Regions from separate parts of the Homo sapiens genome. Here regions 2 and 3 are each linked to region 1. The links come from fine-mapping of genetic effects on gene expression. A gene starts in region 1. Each other region holds a variant in brackets. All regions are shown on one strand. Distances are from middle to middle. Region 1 holds the start of MCEMP1 (mast cell expressed membrane protein 1). Region 2 has its middle 12 kb from the start of RETN. Region 3 overlaps PNPLA6 (patatin like domain 6, lysophospholipase).

Region 1 (8,176 bases):
AAGCTTCTCTCGCTCGCCCACCACTCACCTCCTGCTGTGAGGCCCCGTTCCCAATGCCCGGTGGCTGGGGACCCCTGTTCTAGTGGGCAAAAGCCTCAGCATCCCCCGCCTCAGCTCCCTGGGGCACAAATTCAGGTGATTCGGGGTCCAGTTCTACAGGAAGCCTGACCCAGGAGTCTTGCCATCCAGTCCCTGATTTCCCACCACAGACTTCAGAATTCCTAGCACCTAGTCTTGAAAGGGATCCCAGACTCAAATGTCACACCTGGACAACAGATGATAGAGTGAGGTTCTGGTTTGCAGGATGTTTTGGACTCTCCTCCCACTGCCACCCACCCCCTGTGATGGTCCCAGCCCCCTGTCTGATGCTGGTGGCCATGAGCAGAGATTACAACCACTTCTGGTGCCAGGGACCCCACCCAGACTCCAGCCCAGGGATTCCCTTCCCAGACCCTCTCTCCTGACTCCACAGTGGTCATGGGGGTAGGGCAGGACCACTGAGTTAGAAGCATGGCCAGGGCCAGAGAGGGTGAGTCTAGTGCCTTGTGTGTGTCCCTGCCCCTTACTGCTGTGTGTGTGTGTTGGGGGCGGGGATGCTCCATTGTCCCCAGAACTATTTGTCTCCACCCCCATCCAATAGTCCTGTATCTGAAACCTAAGAGGGCTCTCTTCAGGTTCCTCAATTCCAACATAGACATTCTCCTGCCCCAGAGTGCAGACTTGGAGGTCATATCTGCCCAGGTGATGTGGACAGGCAAACCCCCTATTAGAGCCTCAATTTCCTCAATAGCTAATGCCTAGATCCCCTGTGGTAGGCAAGATATCCTCCTCCCTCCTCCCTCCTCCCTCCCTCCTTCCTCCTCCTCATCCTTCTCCTCCTCCTCCTTCTTCTTCTTCCTTTTTGAGATGGAGTCTCACTCTGTTGTCCAGGCTGGAGTGCAGTGGCACGATCTCAGCTCACTGCAACCTCCACCTCCAGGTTCAAGTGATTCTCCTGCTTCAGCCTCCTGAGTAGTTGGGATTGCAGGCGCCCACCACCACTCCTGGCTAATTTTTGTATTTTTAGTAGACACGGGGATTTCGCCATTTTGGCCAGGCTGGTCTCAAATTCCTGACCTTAAGTGATTCACCTGCCTCGGCCTTCCAAAGTGCTGGGATTACAGGCGTGGGCCACAGAGACCAGCCAAGGCAAGATTCTTCTGCTTGCAAGTACAACAGACCCCACTTCAAACTAGCTTGGGCAAAACTAAAAGGAAGTTTCTTGTTTGTGTAACTGACAAGCCCAGGGTTAGAACAACAGGTTCAGGTATGGCTTGGAACCAGGGTCTCAAATGATGTCTCCAGGACCCAGACTTCCTCTCGGGTCTGATTTTCTCAGCACTGCCTTTGCTCTCAAGTAAATTCTTCCCTGTCACAGCTCCCATTACATCCTCCCATTGTGGCAGCCCTAGTGAGGGCTGGAAAAAAAAGAGAATGCTTTTTCCCCCGTGGTTAAACCAATAAAAATCCCAGACCAGCGTTTCATTGGCTGGATCTTGCTCAAATGCCCGCCTCTCTGCCCAATCTTAGACTCTGGTTGGCTGGGTCTGGATCATTTGTCCACTGTAAACCAATCCCTAGCTTATGGTTTGCTGGATCTAGCACACATTTTCTTTCTTAAAAGAAAATTGAGAATGTTACCCTATGAAAGGGACGGGTGCTGGTCAGGCAGCTTTGCAGATGTTTCCCACATGACATGATTGCTTGTGGGCCTCTGGTTTAGCGTGACCTTTTTCTCAAAGGAAGTCCAGAGCCTGGAGCCGCGTCTCAGCCCCACCCAAGCCCGGGAAATGTGCAACGCTGTGGCTCCACCCCCTGTGCCTGTCCATCAAGGCAGAGCCCACATCCAATTGGTCCGTCTGCTCCATTAGAAGGCGGTCCTATAGCTCAGTAACTGACTTCTTTCTAAGACCAAATGGAGCAGCTGGCATGAAGTCATTATCAAATTGATCTTTCTTGGAGACACAGGATTTGGCAATATTTTAGGAAACAGAACTTTATCCTCACCAGATCTCGACGCTCATTTCTCAACATTCAAGTTGTCTGAAATTTAACCACATATTTTTAACCAAAACATCATCACTTTCTGCACATAAGACAGTCTTATACTTGTTTTTTCTTCTTTTCTTCTTCCTTCCTTCCTTCTTTCTTCTTTCTTCTTTTTTCTTTTTTTTTTTTTTTTTTTGACGGAGTTTTGCTCTTGTTGCCCAGGCTGGAGTGCAATGGCGCGATCTCGGCTCACTGCAACCTCCACCTCCCGGGTTCAAGTGATTCTCCTGTCTCAGCCTCCCGAGTGGCTGAGATTACAGGCGCCTGCCACCACGCCCAGTTAATTTTTGCATTTTTAGTAGAGACAGGGTTTTATCATATTGGTCAGGCTGGTGTCTCTAACTCCTGACCTCAGGTGATCCGCCCGCCTCAGACTCCCAAAGTGCTGTGATTACAGGCGTGAGCCACCACACCTGGCCAGAAAAAAATAAAAATAAAAATGTATGCCTGTAATCCCAGCACTTTGGGAGACCAAGGCTGGAGGATCAGTTGAACCCAGGAGATCAAGACCAGCCTGGACGGCATATTGAGACCCTCATCTCTACAAAAAATAAGAAAAATTAGACTGGGCCACGGTGGCTGATGCTTGTAATCCCAGCACTTTGGGAGGCCAAGGCGGGTAGATCACGTGAAGTCAGGAGTTCGAGACCAGCCTGACCAACATGGGGAAACCCCGTCTCTACTAAAAATACAAAATTAGCCGGGGGTGGTGGTGCATGCCTGTAATCCCAGCTACTTGGGAGGCTGAGGCAGGAGAATGACTTGAACCTGGGATGCGGAGGTTGCAGTGAGCTGAGATAGCGTCATTGCACTCCAGCCTGGGTGACAAGCACAAAACTCCATCTCAAAAAAGGAGAAAAATTAGCCAGGTGAAGTCGTGCCCACCTGTAATTTCAGCTACTCGGGAAGCCGAGGACGAAGGATTACTTGAGCCAGGGAGGTCAAAGCTGCAGTGAGCCATGATCACGCTGCTGCACCCCGGCCTGGGCAACAGAGTGAAACCCTGTCTCAAAAAAAAATTATTAAAAAACATTTAAAGAGACAGGGTCTTGCTATGTTGCTCACGCTGGTCTCAAACTCCTGGCCTCAAATGATCCTCCTACCTCAGCCTCCTGGGTAGCTGGGACTACAGAGCGAGCCACCATACCCAGCTACTTTGTGCCTTTTGTAACCCCAGTTTTCAAGATCAGATAAACACAAAGTGAACTAAGACACCTTCTAGACAGAGTGCGGGCATGTGAACGCATGCTTGTGTCTATTTTTCTGAGTGTCACAATGCAAATAGTATGCAAATGAGTTTGTGATGTGTGTCCGTGTGCAGACCTGTGTGTGTACATGTGTGAGAGAGAGTATCTGGGTAGATAAGCAGATGGATGGATGAGAATGAGAAACCTGGAGTTTCCAGGTGCAGAGGAAACTGTTCCTCCAGGGTTCTTTTTTGAGACAGAGTTTCCCTCTTGTCACCCATTCTGGAGTGCAATGGTGTGATCTCCGCTCACTGCAGCCTCCGCCTCCCAGGTTTAAGCGATTCTCCTGCCTCAGCCTCCTGAGTAGCTAGGATTACAGGCGCTCGCCACCACGCCCAGCTAATTTTTGTATTTTTAGTAGAGACGGGGTTTCACCATGTTAGCCAGGCTGGTTTCAAACTCCTGACCTCAGATGATCCACCCACCTCAGCCTCCCAGAGTGCTGGGATTACAGGCGTGAGCCACCGCACCCAGCCTCCTCCAGGGTTGTATAAAAGCAGGGGATTTGGGGAGGGAGGGAAGGATGTGGGTCTGTCCTCAGTCCCAGATGTGGGTGTGGCGTTCCAGTGGTTAGTTCCCGTTGCCTCACATCTGTGCTTTTCCTCCACGGGGACTTGTAGAAGTAGAAGAACTTCTTGGGGGTGGAGCTGAGGGGTGGAGCTGAGGCTGGAGGGAGGAAGGTGTGGGGGGACCCAGGGGTCCTGTCTCCAAGCCTGGTTGCTCTTACGCGAAAAGTTGGGACACTGAGGTGTCACAGCTTCTCTTTTGAAATGGAGAGGAGGTAGGAGGGTGAGGTCCATCCAGGTAGACACAGACACACACAGAGACCACAGCTTCCTGTAACATTTCCGAGTGTCGAATTCCATCTCCCGGTCTAGAGGTTTTTCTTCTTGGTCCTTCCTGAGACCTCTTGGCTCCCAAGAGCCTCTTGATCGGGGCAGGAATGAGGGTGCCCCAGGGTGCGAGAGTCGTGGATCCCTGAAAAGAGGAGGCTGCTCCCCCTCTTTCTTCCCCCCACCTCCAGATTTCCTCATCTGCCCACACCTTCCGGTGGGCGGGGACGTGTATGGACAAATTTGCGGGCTGGGGACCATGGAAGTGGAGGAAATCTACAAGCACCAGGAAGTCAAGATGCAAGCACCAGCCTTCAGGGACAAGAAACAGGGGGTCTCAGCCAAGAATCAAGGTTAGGGAACTCGAGGTGGAAGGGAGGGGTTAAGAAGGAGAGATTGGGGGGCCGGGGGCTTTTGCTCATGTCTGTAATCCTAGCACTTTGGGAGGCTGAGGCGGGAGGATTGCGTGAGCCCTGGAGGTGGAGACTGGCCTGGGCAACATAGGGAGACTCTGTCTGTAAAAAATAAAAATAAAAAAAGAAGGAGAGTTCAGATGGGAGAGGTAAGGGGTCAAAGGTGGGGGCCGGGGGCTCCTTCCCCTCCAAGATGTGTGGATGTGTGTGTGGATGTGTGTGTGGTGTGATCACTCAAACTCTCACACACCCGCTCCACTTAACCAAAAAGCAGATTTTAGCTTCTCACTCCTTATCTTTCACCCCCTACAATTTATTGAGTGCAAAGGGTTGGGTAAAACAAGATCCCGGATCCACTCTCCACACCACAGAGCTCTGAGCAGATCTCCAACCCCTCCCAGGTGCCCATGACCCAGACTATGAGAATATCACCTTGGCCTTCAAAAATCAGGACCATGCAAAGGGTGGTCATTCACGACCCACGAGCCAAGGTGAGCAGACACCCACCTGCTCACATCCCATCACCTTGGGAAGGGGCAGGTGGGCGGGCAACTGCAGGGCCCCCGGGGCTGCGTGGAAGGGAGGAAGCGATGGGGAAGGAAGAGGTGACAGCTGTTGACGTGCTAATGAGGTCTGTTGATGATGACAATGTTGGGGAATGCTGGAGAGGGGGTCTGTGATGGTGACGGTGTTAGATCGCTGAGGGTGGCTGGTGGTGGCAGTGTTGTTGACGATGATGACAAGCTGCATGACCACAGCTGCTGATGGTTTTGAGAGGAGCGAGGTGTCCATGGTGTTAGAGACAGTGAGGATGGTTTGAGTGGTGGTGCTGGCCCCTCAAGGTCACTTTGCTGCCTCTTTGCTCCAGTCCCAGCCCAGTGCAGGCCGCCCTCAGACTCCACCCAGGTCCCCTGCTGGTTGTACAGAGCCATCCTGAGCCTGTACATCCTCCTGGCCCTGGCCTTTGTCCTCTGCATCATCCTGTCAGCCTTCATCATGGTGAAGAGTGAGTACTTCTTGGGAGGAGGGTGCTGGGGGGCCTAGACTTTCTCCCTTGTCCTTCTCTCTCTCTCTCCCTGGGTGCTTCAAGGATTTTCCTGCCCCTCCTGAACAGATGCTGAGATGTCCAAGGAGCTGCTGGGCTTTAAAAGGGAGCTTTGGAATGGTGAGCGGAGGGTCTGAGGGAGACCCGTGGGGTCATGGTGGGGGTCTGGAGAGGGATGGATGCACAGACACCCCTGTTTCATGCCCTCAGTCTCAAACTCCGTACAAGCATGCGAAGAGAGACAGAAGAGAGGCTGGGATTCCGTTCAGCAGAGCATCACCATGGTCAGGAGCAAGATTGATAGATTAGAGACGACATTAGCAGGTGCCTGTGTAGTCTCGCCTTCTATGGGGGTTATTTGTCACCAATGCCCGGAGCTGAGCTGGGGGCAGGGGATTCAGGGGAGGAGAAAGCCGGGGTCCTACCCTCCCAAAGCTCAAGTTGTGGAGGGGCGATGGGTGTTACCATCTGGGTTGCTCTGTGGGTATTGAAAGGCTCCTGGGAACCCCAAATCCATGGGCTCTGCTGTACCCCAGGGTGGGTGTGGGGCAGGGGGGGTGCTTCCAAGGAAGGTGGGGGCTTTGTTTGAGGCTCCACCGCAGCTTGACTTATCTGTTCCCACCCAACCCTCCCCGCCCCCTAGGCATAAAAAACATTGACACAAAGGTACAGAAAATCTTGGAGGTGCTGCAGAAAATGCCACGTAAGTTGGCGCCCCGACAGGAGGTGGAGGAGGGTGGGTGGGGCTTCAGATTTAGCCCCAGCTCCTCTCCCAGGGGCGGGATCTGCCTCACTGTGGGTCTCTCCCCATCCCCAGAGTCCTCACCTCAATAAATGAGAGGACATTGTGGCAGCCAAAGCCACAACTTGGAAGATGGGGCTGCACCTGCCAACGAAGACGGGAAATGACCCCCCCCCCCCAGCCTAGTGTGAACCTGCCCCTCGTCCCACGTATAGAAAAACCTCGAGTCATGGTGAATGAGTGTCTCGGAGTTGCTCGTGTGTGTGTACACCTGCGTGCGTGTGTGTGCGTGTGTGCGCGTGTGTTCGTGTATGTGCGTGTGTGCGTGCGCGTGTGTGTGCATTTTGCAAAGGGTGGACATTTCAGTGTATCTCCCAGAAAGGTGATGAATGAATAGGACTGAGAGTCACAGTGAATGTGGCATGCATGCCTGTGTCATGTGACATATGTGAGTCTCGGCATGTCACGGTGGGTGGCTGTGTCTGAGCACCTCCAGCAGATGTCACTCTGAGTGTGGGTGTTGGTGACATGCATTGCACGGGCCTGTCTCCCTGTTTGTGTAAACATACTAGAGTATACTGCGGCGTGTTTTCTGTCTACCCATGTCATGGTGGGGGAGATTTATCTCCGTACATGTGGGTGTCGCCATGTGTGCCCTGTCACTATCTGTGGCTGGGTGAACGGCTGTGTCATTATGAGTGTGCCGAGTTATGCCACCCTGTGTGCTCAGGGCACATGCACACAGACATTTATCTCTGCACTCACATTTTGTGACTTATGAAGATAAATAAAGTCAAGGGAAAACAGCGTCGCTATGGGACCTGTTACTGGGGCAAGGGGAGGGGTTTTGGGACCTGGGGAGAGGGAGAGTCTGCACGTGACAATGACCCCGGGGCACCAGGGTGGGCGAGACTGAGTGCCCTGCGTGAGTACCTGTGCATCTGTGAATGAGTAACTCATTCCCTGTGTCTTCCCTGTGTCCCAGAGTGGGTGCCCCTGAGCATACAACATCTCCCTGAGTGTACCTGGGACCACGGATATATACAAGCCCTAAGCGTGTACCCACGTGTGTAATTGTGCCCGTGAGTGTATCTATGCCATTGAGCATGTATCCATGAGTGTACATGACCCTAAGGTACTATGTCCACCGCTCATGCATGCACTTGATTTGTTGTTGTTGTTGTTTGTTTTTGTTTTTTTGAGACAGGGTCTCGCTCTATCACCCAGGCTGGAGGGCAGTGGTACGATCATGACTCATTGCAGCCTCGACCTCCTGGGCTCAGGCGATCCTCTTGCCTCCGCCTCCCGAGTAGATGGGATTACAGGTTCACACCACCACACCTGGCTAATTTTTTTTAAAGAAGTGGGAGTCTAGCTATGTTGTCCAGGCTGGTCTCAAACTCCTGGCCTCAAGTGATTCTCCCACCTCCGCCTCCGAAAATGCTGGGGTTACAGGCGGGAGCCACCGCGGGCCACATGGATGCACTTGAGACAATTGAACCCATCCCCAAGGACATAGGAGTGCCTGGAAAAGCCAACAGGTGTGTCCATGTGCAAGGGTATACATTGGCCCATTGTCATACGTGCGCCCTGAGCAGGTGACTAGGCCTGCAAGCGTCCCCTCCAGCGTGGGCCACCCAGAGCCAGCGAGACCCTGGCCACGCGCGGAGCAGCCATCACGGCCGTGGGCCACGTCCCTGGGTCCGGCTCCGCGGACTCGCGCGCCCCCCTGCGGCCGCTCTCAGGCACCGCTGCGCGCGCCCCGCCCACACGCCTGGCCCGTCGAGCGCCTGCGCACGCAGCGCCTT
Region 2 (8,176 bases), 20 kb before region 1:
TAACGAGCACGAAGTCAAGCTCCCTCTGCACGCTTTATGCAGATCCTCAAAACCCTCCTGTGAGGATCGCTGGAGCCTAGGAGTTCGAGGCTGCAGTGAGCTATGATTGTGCCTCTGCCCTCCAGCCTGGGTGAGAAAGCGAGAAGTTGTGTTAAAAACAAAAAAAAAGTTGGGGGGCCGGGCGCGGTGGCTCACGTCTGTAATCCCAGCACTTTGGGAGGCCGAGGCGGGCGGATCACGAGGTCAGGAGTTCAAGACCAGTCTAGCCAACATGGTGAAACCCTGTCTCTACTAAAAATACAAAAATTAGCCGGGCGTGGTGGTGGGCGCCTGTAATCCCAGCTACTCGGGAGGCTGAGGCAGGAGAATCGCTTGAAACCGGAAGGCAGAGGTTGCAGTGAGCCATCATGCCACTGCACTCCAGCCTGGGCAACAAGAGCGAAACCCTGTCTCAAAAAAAAAAAAAAAATTATCCTTTGAGATCCCTTCCCCCAAGTCCATTTCCCATCTCATGGTGAACCTGGCTGCTGTTCTTCAAACACACCACACTGTCCCTGCCCCAGAACCTTTGCACCTGCTATTCCCATCATCCGCAATGCTGTGCCTTGCAAGCTATTGTACTCCTTCCTCCTTCCCTTCCCCAGCTGGGAGAGGCCCCTGCTTTACTTCCTTGTGGTATCCCCACTTAGGGTGCTTTCTTTCTGGTTCTCTTCTGGTACCGAGGAATGATCCTCATTCTGGATTTGGCAGGTTGCTTCCTCTCTCCCCATCCCTGCCCCAATGTTTACCCTATAAATGGCTTAGAACCACATGCTCTATTGGAATAAGGGTCAGTTGCAGCCAGAATAATATCATGCTGGTAGGGCCGGGTACTTCCTGGTACATCACATCAGGGGGTCCATAACGTCATGTCACTACGATTGATGGGTGGGTTTGGGGAATGTCCCTGGTCCCCAGTAACTCTCCACATAAAGATGTTAACAGGAGCTGGGCCCAGTGGCTCACGCCTGTAGTTCCCAGCACTTTGGGAGGCCAAGGCAGGAGGATCACTTAGGCCCAGGAGTTTGAGACCAGCCTGGGCAACATAGCAAAACCCTGTCTCTACTAAAAATAAAATAAAGACCGGGCACGGTGGCTCATACCTGTAATCCCAGCACTTTGGGAGGCTGAGATGGGCGGATCACTTGAGGTCAGGAGTTCAAGACCAGCCTGGCCAACATGATGAAACCCCGTCTCTACCAAAAAACCAAAAATTAACCAGGCGTGGTGGTGCACACCTGTTATCCCAGCTACTCAGGAAGCTGAGGTAGGAGAATAACTTGAATCCAGGAGGCGGAGGTTGCAGTGAGCTGAGATCATGCCATTGCACTCCAGCCTGGGTGACAGAGTAAGACTCTGTCTCAAAAAATAAATAAATAAAATACAACAAAATAAAATAATTAGCCAGATGTGGCAGCAATTGCTTGTAGTCCCAGCTACATGGGAGGCTGAGGTGGGAAGATCACTTGAGTCCAAGAGGTTGAGGCTGCACTGAGTTATGATCTCGGCACTGCACTCCAGTTTGGGCGATAGAGTGAGACCCTGTCTCATAAAAAATAAAAATAAAAAAGGAAAGAAAAGAAAAAAAGTCATTAGCAGCCATCAATTTTGTTGTTGTTATTGTTTGTTTGTTTGTTTTTGAGATAGAGTTTCGCTCTTGTTGCCCAGGCTGGAGTGCAGTGATGCAATCTTGGCTCACTGCAATCTCCACCTCCAGGGTTCAATCAATTCTCCTGCCTCAGCCTCCCAAGAAGCTGGGACTACAAGCATGAGCCACCATGCCAGGCTAATTTTTGTATTTTTAGTAGAGACGGGGTCTCACCATGGTGGCCAAGCTGGTCTTGAACTCCTGACCTCAAATGATTCACCTGCCTCATCCTCCTAAAGTGCTGGGATTACAGGCATCAGCCACCGTGCCTGGCCCGCCATCCATTTTTGATTCATTACTCTCTTGAGGATTATGTCCAACTTTATCATTCCTGCTACTGGAATTAGCTGTGGTTCTTCTGAAAAAGGCTTTCTGCTTCCCTCCGGAACTAGCTGGTTTGTACAGAAAGTGACAACGTGATACATTGACTTATGTATTATTTGTGGAATGCCTTGAGGCAAGCGGTTACATGAGCTCAGCAGAAGAGCCTGGAATGGGCACAGCCCTGAGGGTCACGTGTGGCTCCCTTGGAAGCATCTAGGGAGCACCCAGGAACGATTGGCTGCCATAGTAATTACTATCTAATTTATTAGATATAGTAAAAATAAATTTATTACTAATTATCACTAACGATTCTGATTACTGGGTGAGAACAATGGTGATCTCATGTATTTATGTGCATTACAGGGTGAGAGTTCTCCTTCCTGTGGCGTGCAGGAGATTCTAGAATAGAAACTCATTGAAAGAGTGAGAGGAAAACATTTGTGATCTTGAACCTGTTCCGCTTAAAAATACATGAGGGAGGCCGAGTGCGGTGGCTCACGCCTGTAATCCCAGCACTTTGGGAGGCCGAGTTGGGTGGATCACCTGAGGTCAGGAATTCGAGACCAGCCTGGCCAACACGGTGAAACCTCGTCACTACTAAAAATACAAAAATTAGCCAGGCATGGTGGCGGGCACCTGTAATCCCAGCTACTCGGGAGGCTGAGGCAGGAGAATCACTTGAACCCAGGGAGTGGAGGTTGCAGTGGGCCGAGATCATGCCACTGCACTCCAGCCTGGGTGGTACAGCAAGACTCTGTCTCAAAATAAGTAAATAGATAAATCGATTAATAAAAAATACATGAGAGGACGGGTGCAGTGGCTCATGCTGGTAATCCCAGCACTCTGGGAGGCCGAGGTGAAAGGATCATCTAAAGCTGGGAGTTTGAGACCAGCCTGGGCAATATAGCAAGACCCCTGCCTCTACAAAAAATGTAGCTGCACCTGGTGGCACACACCCAGCTACTTGGGAGGCTGAGGCAGGAAGATCACTTGAGTCTGGGAGGTGGAGGCTACAGTGAGCTGTGATTGCACCACTGCACTCCAGCCTGGGTGACAGAGCAAGACCTCATCTCCAAAAAAAACACAAATAACAAAAACGTGAGGGTCCAGAGAAATTAAAGCTGCGGGCTGGGCCAGCAGCAGTGGTGGTGGGATGGTGAAGCCAGCGACCCTAGCAGAGAAATCGGGGACAAAGGAATCAGTGCTGGAGACCTGCAGAGGAGGCGTCCTGGACCCAGACAGGAAAAGGAGGTGATGTAACTCAACGAAGCAAGGAAATCTCGTGGAAATGAGTAAGGTGACAAAGAGAGGCCACCCAGGGG[G/A]AGACCCAGACATTGAGGGTAGCTTCCCTTTTATTTTCTGTAAAGTTGCTCAAAAACCTTAAAACACAGTTGACCAACAGCTGCTGCCAAGAACATTGTGAAAAGGTTTCTGGGTAAGGAAATGGCCCTGCGAATGGGAAGGTTCCGCTCTGGTGGGATCAGAGATGAGGTGTCCAGGGCTGGGATAGGCAGGCCAGGATAGCAAAGCCCTGGCAGACAGAGGCTCCATTTTGGGTGTCCTTCATTCCCTTCTTTTTTTTTTGAGGCGGAGTCTCGCCCTGTTACCTAGGCTGGAGTGCAGTGGCGCGATCTCGGCTCGCTGCAGCCTCTGCCTCCCGGGTTCAAGTGATTCTCCTGCCTCAGCCTCCCAAGCAGCTGGCATTACAGGCATGTGCCACCACGCCCGGCTAATTTTTGTATTTTTAGCAGAGACAGGCTTTTTCCATGTTGCCTAGGCAAATCTCGAACTCCTAATCAAGCAGTCCACCCGCCCTCAGCCTCCTTCATTCACTTCTGAGATGATTCAGTTTCTGTCTCTGTTGGCAGCTGGGAAAGTTCTGAAAAAAGAATGAAGAGCAGTCCAGGCGTGGTGGCTCGCAACTGTAATCCCAGCACTTTGGGAGGCTGAGGTGGGCAGATCACCTGAGCTTGGGAGTTGGAGACCAGCCTGACCAAAAAGGTGAAACCTCACCTCTACTAAAAATACAAAAATTAGCTGGAAATGGTGGTGGATGTCTGTAATCCCAGCTACTCAGGAGGCTGAGGCAGGAGAATCGCTTGAGCCTGGGAGGCAGAGGTTGCAGTGAGCTGAGATTGTCCCACTGCCCTGCAGCTTGGGTGACAGAGTGAGACTCTGTCTCAAAAAAAAAAAAAAGAAAAAGAAAAAGTAAAGACAATGGCATCAGACAAATTCTGGCTCTGAAATCTAGGCTAGCTGGCCTGGTGACTTTTTTTTTTTTTTTTTCATAGAGATGGGGTCTTGCTATGTTGCCCAGGCCGGGTTTTGAATTTTTGGCCTCAAGCCATCCTCCTGCCTCAGCTTCCCAAAGTGCTGGGAATATAGGTGCCCCACTTTTTTTTTTTTTTTTTGAGACAGAGTCTCATTCTGTCACCCAGGCTGGAGTGCAGTGGCGCAATCTTGGCTCACTGCAAACTCCACCTCCCAGATTCAAGCGATTCTCCCACCTCAGCCTCCCGAGTAGCTGGGATTACAGGTGCCCACCATCACACCCAGCTAAGTTTTGTACTTTTGGTAGAGACAGGGTTTCACCATATTGGCCAGGTTGGCCTCGAACTCCTGACGCCAGATGATCTGCCCGCCTCGGCCTCCCAAAGTGCTAGGATTACAGACATAAGCCACCGTGCCCTGCCCTTTTTTTTTTTTTTTTAAGAGTCTCTGTCTGTCACTTAGGCTGGAGTGCAGTGGTGCAATCATAGCTCACTGCAGCCACAAACTCCCGGGCTGAAGCAATAGATCCTCCCCCTTCGGCCTCCTAAGTAGTGGCTGGGATTACACGGGCATGCCACCACACCCAGCTAATTTTTAAAAAGTTTTTGTAAAGACGGGGGTTTTCCTGTGTTGCCCAGGCTGAACTCAAACTCTTGAGCTCAACGGATCCTCCTGCCTTGGTCTCCCAAGGAGCTGGGATTATAGGCGTGAGCCACTGTGCCTGGCCCTGGTGACCTTTTGACAGTAGCCCCGCCTTCCCCAGCGTGGGTTTTGCCCTCTGTAATGTTGCGTAGGGCTGTTGCGATCACAGAAGGTGGTGGAGTGTGAGTACTTCTGGGGTACTTGCCGGAGGCTGGGGATTTGTGGAGGTGTGTGGCTCAGTTTTATTCCAGGAAACCGTGGCCAGACGGGCCTGTCAGCACCTTCCCTTTCATCTACAGTTCCTCAATTGGGGGGGTGTGAGTTGTTTCATAAGCCCCTCCCCCTCATTTCTTGCAGGAAAGTGGTAATGCAAAGAAACTTTTATTTTATCCACATCTATATTCTTTGTAACCTTTTAAAATAAGATACTTGGCCTGGCGCCTGTAACCCCAGCATTTTGGCAGGCTGAGGCAGGCAGATCACTTGAGTTCAGGAGTTCAAGACCAGCCTGGCCAACAGGGTGAAACCCCACCTCTACTAAAAATACAAAAATAAGCTGGGCACGGTGGCGCACGCCTGTAATCCCAGCACTTTTGGAGGCCAAGGCGGGCAGATCACCTGAGTTCGAGAGTTTGACACCAGCCTGACCAACGTGGAGAAACCCCCGTCTCTAATAAAAATACAAAGTTAGCCGGGCGTGGTGGCGCACGCCTGTGATCCCAGCTACTCGGGAGGCTGAGGCATGAGAATTGCTTGCACTCGGGAGGTGGAGGTTGCAGTGAGCCGAGAGGGTTAGGGTTAGGGTTCAGGAGGAAGGAAAAACCTAGGGTGTTTAGCCCCGGAAATCTCTCTTTTGATGTTCACTGCCTCGAGGTTCTTGCTACCTCTTGCTCCAAGTCACAGCCTGGCCCCAGCAGGTCATGCCAGAGCCCCCAGCCTGTCCTCTGCCAAGCGGTGGTCCTGGCAGCTGCTTAGACTCCCACTCCGAAGCTGGATCATCTGTAGATGGGAAGTGTTTGCATAAATGGGGCCAAGGAGTGCTCTCCAGCTCTTTGGTAAAGAAGCCTGACAGCCGCCAAGGCTTTTACTTTTATTTTCCATCCTTCACCCGGGAGGGGAAGCAAGTATCACTGTGTTCTGATTTGGCAGAGCCACCTGTCATTGCAACTTGTCACCAGGGCAACAAGTCACCATCTTAGTAAGGCAGCCAATGAGAAGCATGGGTTTCCTCTGGTGGTCGGTTTCACAGAACGGCAACAGTTTCTAGGCATCCGAGTGATACCAGAACTCTTTGTTCAAATAAGGCTTCAAGGACAGATGTATAGTGACAGAGAGGAGAACAAGCTGGTAGCAATTATGAATTTTCACAAGGAAAACTAGTTGTGGGGAGCAGAAAAATCCTCTCTGTGGCTTCAGGAACAAAGAGGCCATTTCCCTTGGGTCTTTAGGAAACCCCTTTTTTCCAACTATAATTTATTTTATTATTATTTTTTGAGATGGAGTTTCGCTCTTGTTGCCCAGGTTGGAGCACAATGGTGCGATCTCGGCTCACTGCAACCTCTGCCTCCCGGGTTCAAGCGATTCTCCTGTCTTAGCCTCCCGATTAGCTGGGATTACAGGCGTCTGCCACAATGTCCGGCTGATTTTTGTATTTTTAGTTGAGACAGGGTTTCAGCATGTTGGCCAGGCTGGTCTGGAACTCCTGACCTCAGGTGAACTTCCCCCCTCGGCCTCCCAAAGTGCTGGGTTACAGGCGTGAGCCACCGTGCCCAGCCCAGCGATAATTTAAATTACAAGTATTTGGCCCGGCATTAGTGGTGCATGCCTGTAATCTCTGCACTTTGGGAGGTCAAAGACCAAGGATCCTGGCAACATATGAGACCCTGTCTCTACAAAGAAGAATCAATTTTTTCAATTAACTGTGGGTGGTGGTGGGTGCCTGTAGTCCTAGCTACTCAGGAGGCTGAGGCAGGAGGATCGCTTGAGCCCAGGAGTTGGAGGATGCAGTGAGCTCTGATGGCACCACTGCACCCCGGCGTGGGAGATCGAGACAGAGTGAGACGCCATCTCTAAAAAATAATAATAAATAAATAAATACGTATTTGGTGGTGATGGTTACAAGATCGTGTGCAGAATTTTAGTGTATATAAATGCCACCTTAATAAAAACTGATTTTTAGAAAATAATTCTTGGGAAAACCAAAACGTGCAGCAGGCAGGTAGACACATTTGTCAAAATGCATCAAACTCAGTAACAGCAGACCAAAGACTGCCTGTTCTCACTTATAAGTGGGATCTAAACTTCAGGTACTCATGGACATAAAGGTGGCAATAATGAACAGTGGGGATTGCCAGGGAGGGGTGAGGAAAAGGGGCATGAGGGTTGAAAATCTAACTGTTGAGTGCTGTGCTCACCATCTGGGTGACAGAGTCGCTCATACCCCAAACCTCAGCATCATGCAATATACTCAGGTAGGAGACTGGCACAGGTATCCCCTGAATCTAAAATAAAAGTTGATAAAGAGGGTCCCGGGCGCGGCGGCTCACAACTGTAATCCCAGCACTTTGGGAGGCCAAGGCGGGCAGGTCGCTTTGAGGCCAGGAGTTCGAGACCAGCCTGGGCAACATGGTGAAACCCCGTCTCCACTAAAAATACAAAAATTAGATGGGCGTGGTGGCGGGCACCTGTAATCCCAGCTACTTGGGAGGCTGATGCAGGAGAATCGCTTGAACCCGGGAGGCGGAGGTTGCAGTGAGCTGAGGTCGCACCGCTGCACTCCAGTTTGGGCAACAGAGCGAGACTCCGTCTCAAAAAAATGAAAAAATAAATAAAAGTTGATAAAGAGGGCTGGCCATGGTGGCTTATGCCTGTAATTCCAGCACTTTGGGAGGCCAAGGCAGGCAGATCACTTGAGGCCAGGAGTTTGAGACCAGCCTGGGCAACATGGTGAAACCCCATCTCTATGAAAAATACAAAAATTAGTTGGGCGTGGTGGTGTGTGCCTGTGGTCCCAGCACTTTGGGAGGCCGAAGTGGGTGGATCACTTGAGGTCAAGAGTTCGAGACCAACCTGGCCAACATGGAGAAACCCTGTCTCTACTAAAAATACAAAAATTAGCTGGGTGTAGTGGCGCGTGCCTGTGGTCCCACCTACTCAGGAGGCTGAGGCAGGAGAATTGCTTGAACCCGAGAGGCGAAGGTTGCAGTGAGCCGAGATTGTGCCACTGCACGCCAACCTGGGCAACAGAGTGAG
Region 3 (8,176 bases), 110 kb before region 1:
TCAGAGAGTTCCCACCCTAGGATCTCCTCTGAGCCCCCAATGCACCACTGGGCCCCCCAGGGGCCCCAAGACTCTGTGGGCCCCCCCTAAGAGCCTCACCAGTGTCACCCCACAGGTGCTTGCCTTCCCAAGCTCTGGCTTCACTGACTTGGCAGAGATTGTGTCCCGGATTGAGCCCCCCACGAGCTATGTCTCTGATGGCTGTGCTGACGGTGAGGGGCCCAGGGGACCCCCCAAGAGGGAGGGGAGTGGCTGGAGATGGCAGGCCAGCCCCAATCCCCTCACCTGTGCCCTGCTCCCCGATTCCAGGAGAGGAGTCAGATTGTCTGACAGAGTATGAGGAGGACGCCGGACCCGACTGCTCGAGGGATGAAGGGGGGTCCCCCGAGGGCGCAAGCCCCAGCACTGCCTCCGAGATGGTGAGAGTGGGTGGCCCAGGGTCCCCTCACATCCCCCAGAGGGTCATGAGTACAGTGTCAGGCAGGGGAGCCGGGGGCGTATTTGAGATCCTGTGTGTGCTGGGTGCTGGCTGACATGTGACGCATCAGTGTCCCGTGCTGGGTGACGTGTGTGTGACCTTCCCTCGCAGGAGGAGGAGAAGTCGATTCTCCGGCAACGACGCTGTCTGCCCCAGGAGCCGCCCGGCTCAGCCACAGATGCCTGAGGACCTCGACAGGGGTCACCCCCTCCCTCCCACCCCTGGACTGGGCTGGGGGTGGCCCCGTGGGGGTAGCTCACTCCCCCTCCTGCTGCTATGCCTGTGACCCCCGCGGCCCACACACTGGACTGACCTGCCCTGAGCGGGGATGCAGTGTTGCACTGATGACTTGACCAGCCCCTCCCCCAATAAACTCGCCTCTTGGAAATGGCTTCCTGTCGTTTTCGGACTGGGGACCCACCTTCTGTGCTCAGGATGGCTGGGGCTGGGGTCTGACACCACCTGGTGCTTGCCCCCCACAGGGAATGCCTTTCTAGAATCCACACGGAGCCCCACTAGGTGCTTGTCCCCACTCTGCCCCTTCTCTGGCTCCTCAGAAGCCAGTGCTGACTCCGGACCACAGGGCCAGACATTCCGTGCCACCCTCCCGGGCTCACAGGTGCTCTTGGGGGCCCGATATGGCACCCCTCAATTTCTTTCTGTGTGTTTTTTGTTTTTTGTGTTTTTTTTTTTGAGATGGAGTCTCACTCTGTCACCCAGGCTGGAGGCTGGAGTGCAGTGGCATGATCTCTGCTCACTGCGACCTCCATCTCCCGGGTTCAAGCGATTCTCCTGCCTCAGCCTCCTGAGTAGCTGGGATTACAGGCGCCCGCCACCACACCCAGCTAAATTTTGTGGGGGGGTTTTTTGGTTTTGTTTTGTTTTTTGTTTTAATTTTTGAGACAGTGTCTCTCTCTGTCACCTAGGCTGGAGTGCAGTGATGCGATCTCAGCTTATTGCAGCCTCCAGCTCTTGGATTCAAGTGATTCTCATGCCTCAGCCTTCCAAGTAGCTGGGGCCACAGGCGAGCACCACCATGCCTGGCTAATTTTTGTATTTTTTGTAGAGAAGGGGTTTCACCATGTTGGCCAGTCTGGTCTCAAACTCCTGGCCTCAAGCCATCCACCTGCCTCAGCCTTCCAAAGTGCTGGGAATACAGGCATGTGCCACCACACCTGGCCTTAATTTTTGTATTTTTAGTAGAGACGGCATTTCATCACGTTGCCCAGGCTGGTCTCAAACTCCTGACCTGAAGTGATCTGCCCGCCTTGGCCTCCCAAAGTGTTGGGATTACAGGCATGAGCCTCCTTGACCGGCCAGAACGGTTTATCTTTTTTATGAGTGAATAATATCCCATTGTGTAGATGGACCACATGGTATTTATTGGTTCATCTGTTGGACGCTTGAGTTGCTTCCACCTTTTGGCTATGGGGAGTCATGCTGCTGTGAACACAGGTGTACAACTATCTGGATCCCTGCTTTCAACTTCCTTGGCTAGATGCCCGGGAGTGGAATTGTTGGGTTACATGGAGATTCTGTGTTGAATTGAAGAAACGCCAAACTTTTCCATAGCGGCTGCACCATTTTAAATTCCCACCGACTGTCAGTGCCTCGAGCTGTCAGCACCATGGACAGGGATGGTGCTGTCCGAGGTGCTACTGACGCCCCCTCTGTGTCTTTCCCTCCAAGCCCCCCCACCCCCGCCGATATCCCTGCGCCCTCCAGATCTCTGAGTTTTGAGGGTGGAGGGGGACATTTAGGGGAAAGTTCAGTCCATAGTTTGGCACCTACTGGTGTCTGTATCTTAACTGGCTCCCCTTCCATCCTGGCTCACAAGGCTCCAGTTGTACCAGCCTTCATTCTATTCCTCAAATTCTCCATCGATTCCTGGCTCAAAGCACAGAATTGGGCTTTTTACTCCCTGTGTAGCTGATTAAGCCTGTCCTCAATTGTCACCTCTTCGGACTGTGTACAGTAACTTCCCTGTTCCCGTTGGCCCCTGTCTCCTTGCCTTTAAAGCACTTCATTAGTCACAGTTGCTTCACTTGTTTTTATTGTTTTCATTGTTTATTATTACTATTATTATTATTATTATTATTATTATTATTATTATTATTATTATTATTATTTTGAGACAAGATCCCACTCTGTCACCCAGGCTGGAGTGCGGTGATGTGATCACGGCTTACTGCAGCTTTGACCTCCTGAGCTCAAGTGATCCTCCCACCTCAACCTCCCGAGTAACTGGGACTACAGGCGCGAGTCACCACATGCAGCTAGTTTTTTTTTTTTTTTTTTTGTAGATATGGGGGTCTCACCATATTGTCCAGGCTGGTCTCAAACTTCTGGGCTCAAGCGATCTACCTGTCTTGGCCTCCCAAAGTGATGGGATTACAGGTATAAAGTGTTGTTGGTGTTGTTGTTTTGTTTGTTTGTTTGTTTGTTTTTGAGACAGAGTTTCACTCTGTTGCCCAGGCTGGAGTGCAGTGGTGTCATCTCGGCTCACTGCAACCTCTGCCTCCCGGGTTCAAGCTATTCTCCTGCCTCAGCCTCCCAAGTAGCTGAGATTACAGGCAACCGCCACCACACCTGGCTAATTTTTGTATTTTTAATAGAGACGGGGTTTCACCATGTTGGCCAGGCTGGTCTCTAACTCCTGACCTCAGGTAATCTGCCTGCCTCAGCCTCCCAAAGTGCTGGGATTACAGGTGTGAGCCACCACACCCGGCCTAAAGTTTTTAATTAACTTTTTTTTTTTTAGAGACAGGATCTCACTCTGTTGCCTAGGCTGGAGTGCAGTAGTGAAGTCATAGCTCACTGCAGCTTCAACCTCCCAGGCTCAAGTGATGCTCCCACCTCAGCCTGCCAAGTAGCTGGGACTACAGGCAAGCACCACCACACCTGGATAATTTTTAAAAAAAAATTTTGGTAGAGACAAGGGTCTCGCTAGGTTGTCCAGGCTGTTCTCAAATTCCAGGGTTCAATTGATCCTTCTGCCTTGGCCATCCAAAGTGCTGGGATTACAGGCACGAGCCATCACATCAGGCCTCACTTGCTTACTTGTTTCTCATCTGTCTCTGCAAGACACACTTAAATATAAGTTCCATCACTGGAAGAACCTTGCATAGAACAGCACCTGGCTCATGGTAGGTGCTCAGTAAATGTCGAATGACATCAAGCTCCAAAGACGAAGCAAAGATCCCTGAGATAACTCCCACTCTCTCTCTTTCTCTCTG[ATTTTG/A]TTTTGTTTTATTTTGAGATAGGGTCTGGCTCTGTTGCCCACCCTGGAGTGCAGTGGCGCCATCTCAGCTCACTGCAACCACGCCCAGGCTTAAACCATCCTCCCACCTCATCCTCCCTGGTAGTTGGGACCACAGGCACATGCCACCACACCTGGCTTAATTTTTGTATTTTTGATGGAGACAAGGTTTTGCCATATTGCCCAGGCTGGTCTTGAACCTGGGCTCAAGCAATCCAACTGCCTCAGCCTCCCAGAGTGCTGGGATTACAGGCGTGAGCCACCTCACCCAGCCGACAATACGTTTTTGTTGCTGAAGTCACCCCATCTGTGGAACTTTGTGACAGTGAATCCTAGCAAATTAACATAGAAGCCCTTGGCTAGACTCAGCTGCCATGATGTGGATGGTGTAATGGATCAGGCAGGACAAGTCAGGTTATGCCGCTGTAACAAATAACACCAAAGTCTTGGGGGGCAAAAACAATACAAAAGTAATTTCTGAGCTGGGTGCAGTGGCTCATGCCTATAGTCCCAGCTACTTGGGAGGCTGAGGCAGGAGGATTGCTTGAGCCCAGGAGTTTGAGACCAGCCTGGGAAACATAGCAAGACCTCATCTCTAAAAAACTTTTTAAAATCAGCTGAGCATAGTGGCATGCACCTGTAGTCTCGGCTATTTGCGAGGTCGAAGCAGGAGAATCGCTTGAGCCCAAGAATTCGAGGCTGCAGTGAGCTATGATTTCACCACTGCACTCCAGCCTGGGCGACAGAGTGAGACTGTCTCTAAAACAAAAGTAGTCACTATCTGGAATGTTTTGGGTCACTGTGACTGAGGAAAGACATCTCTGGAAGGCCTCATACCCATCATTAAATACTCTGGTCCAGAAATGATGCAATACTTTTATCTCACTGCTCATTGGCTAGAAAAAGTCACATGGTCCTACCCAACTGTAAGTGGCCAGGAAAAAACAGCCCTACCATGTGCCCAGAAGAGAGAGCATTGGAAATATTTGGTGATCATCACTAATGATCAACAGGCTGGGCTGCAGTAGCTCACGCCTGTAATCCAAGCACTTTGAGAGGCCGAGGCGAGTGGATTGCTTGAGCTCAGTAGTTCGACATCAGCCTGGGCAACATGGCAAAACCCCATCTCTATCAGAAATACAAAAAATTAGCCAGGCATGGTGGTGTGAGCCCGAAATCCCAGATCCTAGGGAGGCTGAGGTAGGAGGATCACTTGAGCCAAGGGAGGTCTAGGCTGCAGTGAGCCATGATCATGCCACTGCACTCCAGCCTGGGCAATAGGGCGAGACCCTGTCTCAAAAAATTAAAATAAAAACAAACAAAAAACAAACTATTGACTAACAGAGTTGGAACTGAGCCTCAACTGGACCTTCCTGGACTCTCTAGGCTACCCCTCTCTGGTTCCAGAGCTTGAGACTCAGCTAGCGCCAAGAAATTTTGAGGTTACAGTGAGGACCTGGGTTCAGGGTCAGGGGCCCTGTCCTGCAATCCACAGGAGCTGGCCACGAGGTGTGGACCCAAGAGACTGATAAAGTCACATTCTCAAGAGTGTTTTCTTGGTCTCTCTCTCTCTGTCTCTCTCTGTCTCTCTCTGTCTGTCTCTCTGTCTCTCTCTCCCCCTCTCCCTCTCCCTCTCCTCTTTTTCTTTCTTTCTTTGACAGAGTCTCTATCTGTCACCCAGGCTGGAGTGCAGTTGTGTGATCTCGCCTTAGCGCAACCTCCACCTCCTGGGCTCAAGTGATTCTCCCACCTCAGCTTCCTGAATAGCTGAGATTATAGGTGCATGCCACCATGCCCAGCTAATTTTCTTTTTAATTCTTAGTAGAGATGGGGTTTTGCCATGTTGGCCAAGCTGATCTTGAACTCCTGACCTCAAGAAATCTGCCTGCCTTGGCCTCCCAAAATGCTGGGATTACAGGCATGAGCCACCGCACCCAGCCTCTTGGTGTGTTTGTTGCCCAGTGTCTGGAAATGGCCATGTAGAGGTTGGACAGGGAAGAACCAACCTGGTCAGGCTGTAGGACATCTTTTGGCCACCCAGGCCAAGTGCAGTGGCTCATACTTGTAATCCCAACACTTTGGGAGGCCAAAGCAGGAGGATCGCTTGAGGCCAGGGGTTCAAGACCAGCCTGGGTGACATAGTGAGACTCTGACTCTATGAAAAATATTAAAAGTAGCTGAGTGTGAGGGTGGGCTTCTGTAGTCCCAGCTACTTGGGAAGCTGAAGTTAGAAGATCGCTTGAGCCCAGGAGTTAGAGGCTGCAGTGAGCTATAATTGCACCACTGCACTCCAGCCTGGGCAACAGAGTAAAACCTTTTATAAAAATAATATTAATAATAAGTTTAGGCCAGGCACAGTGGCTCATGCCTGTAATCTCAGTACTTTGGGAGGCCAAGGCAGGTAGGTCACTTGATGCCAGGAGTTGGAGACCAGCCTGGCCAACATGGTGAAACCCCTTCTCTACTAAAAATACAAAATAGCTGGATGTGGTGGTGCGTGCCTGTAATCCCAGCTTCTTGCGAGGCTGAGGCACGAGAATTGCTTGAACCTGGGAGGCAGAGATTACAATGAGCCGAGATCATGCCACTACGCTCCAGCCTGGGTGACAGAATAAGCCTCTATCTCAAAAAATAAATAAACAAATTAAAAAAAATAAGAGGCTGGGCATGGCGGCTCACACCTGTAATCCCAGCACTTTGGGAGGCTAAGGCAGGAGGATTGCTTGAGCCCAGGAGTTTGAGGCTGCAGTGATCTATTATCACACCACTACACTCCAGCCTGGGTGACAGAGCAAGACCCTATCTCTGAAACAAAAATAATAACAAAAAAAGCAAAAAACAGGGAATTTTCCTTTCCTTCTTTATTGCCAGAAAGGAAAAAAAAAATCAGGGTCCTACATTTGCACAGATTGGCAGGTTCTGCCCATTGCTAGCCAGCTGACCTTGGGCTTCCCTTCCCCCATTCTCAAATTTGTCACCTGTGTATTCTACCTAATTTTAGTCCCAGTGGGTTGCTTTGTAATTTATCTTTATTTTTATTTTTTTGAGATGGAGTTTTGTTCTTGTTGCCCAGGCTTGAGTGCAATGGCATGATCTTGGCTCACCACAACCTCCGTCTCAGCTCACCGCAACCTCTGCCTCTGGAGTTAAAGCGATTCTCCTGCCTCAGCCTCCCGAGTAGCAGGGATTGCAGGCATGTGCCGCCACACTTGGCTAATTTTGTATTTTTAGTAGAGACAGGGTTTCTACATGTTGGTGAGGCTGGTCTTGAACTCCCGACCTCAGACGATCTTCCCACTTTGGCCTCCCAAACTGCTGGGATTACAGGCGTGAGCCACCATGCCCGACCTGTGATCTAAATAAAAGGAAACAGGCTGGGCGTGGTGGCTCACACCTGTAATCCCAGCACTTTGGGGGGCCAAAGTGGGAGGATCGCTTGACGTCAGGAGTTCGAAACCAGCCTGGGTAACATAGTGAGACCCCCCCCCCCGTCTCTAATAAAGAATAATACATTAATAAAATAAAATAGGCCAGGCACGGTGGCTCACGCCTGTAATCCCAGCACTTCGAGAGGCCAAGACGGGTGGGATCACCTGAGGTCAGGAGTTCGAGACCAGCCTGGCCAACATGGTGAAACCCCGTCTTTACTAAAAATACAAAAATTAGCTGGGCGTGGAGACGCACGCCTGTAATCCCAGCTACTCAGGAGGCTGAGGCAGGAGAATCGCTCGAACCCAGGAGGCAGAGGTTGCAGTGAGCTAAGATCGTGCCACTGCGCTCCAGCCTGGGCGACAGAGCAGGACACCGTCTCAAAAAAATTAATAATAAAATAAAACTAAGATAAAACAAAACAGAGCTCCTTGCAGGAGGAAACTGACGCACACACCTACCTGGACCAGATTCTTACTTTTCTGCCACCAGGGGGCGGTCCTGCTATGGCGTTCAGGCGTCTGGCTCCGGGGTGGAGCTTTGCTGACTAGGGGAGGGTTAAGCACCGAGTAGCTGTGGGCTGACTTACTGCTTTTTTTTTTTTTTTTTTTGTCGTTTAGAATTAACATTTATTGGAAAGGAGGGGAGGGGAGGGAGTACTGTTCTCATTATAAAATCATTACCTGTGTGCTTCAGCCAGGTGCAGTGGCTCATGCCTGTAATCCCAGCACTTTGGGAGGCTGAGGCAGGTGGATCACTTGAGGTCAGGAGTTCGAGACCAGCCTGGACAAGAAGATGAAACCCCGTATCTACTAAAAATACAAAAAATTTAGCCGGGCGTGGTGGTGGTCGCCTGTAATCCCAGCTACTCGGGAGGCTGAGGCAGGAGAATCACTTGAACCCAGGAGGTGGAGGTTGCAGTGATCTGAGATCACACCACTGCACTCCAGCCTGGGCAACAGAGTGAGACTCCATCTCAAACAAACAAACCCACAAACAAATTATTACTT

The links. PIP is the estimated chance that this variant, and not a neighbour inherited with it, causes the effect.
Region 2: its variant is fine-mapped to the expression of MCEMP1 in whole blood (TOPMed, PIP above 0.99).
Region 3: its variant is fine-mapped to the expression of MCEMP1 in whole blood (INTERVAL, PIP above 0.99).

Annotation. Positions count from the first base shown.
Region 1 is chr19:7,672,655-7,680,830 of GRCh38, forward strand. MCEMP1 (mast cell expressed membrane protein 1) reads left to right here and starts at 4,436. Exons shown (of 7, transcript NM_174918.3): 1 at 4,436-4,521; 2 at 4,983-5,072; 3 at 5,450-5,587; 4 at 5,696-5,746; 5 at 5,837-5,950; 6 at 6,270-6,329; 7 at 6,444-7,175. The coding sequence starts at 4,467. The coding sequence ends at 6,460. RefSeq lists an enhancer at 5,403-5,472 and a silencer at 7,884-8,176.
Region 2 is chr19:7,652,463-7,660,638 of GRCh38, forward strand. No RefSeq gene overlaps it. Among named protein-coding and RNA genes, the nearest start is that of RETN, 12 kb to the right of the region's middle. RefSeq lists an enhancer at 5,690-5,809. The variant G/A (reference allele first, on the strand shown) is at 3,334.
Region 3 is chr19:7,560,899-7,569,074 of GRCh38, forward strand. It overlaps PNPLA6 (patatin like domain 6, lysophospholipase), which reads left to right. Exons shown (of 32, transcript NM_001166114.2): 30 at 116-212; 31 at 310-419; 32 at 590-866. The coding sequence ends at 664. Among named protein-coding and RNA genes, the nearest start is that of PNPLA6, 29 kb to the left of the region's middle. The variant ATTTTG/A (reference allele first, on the strand shown) is at 3,715.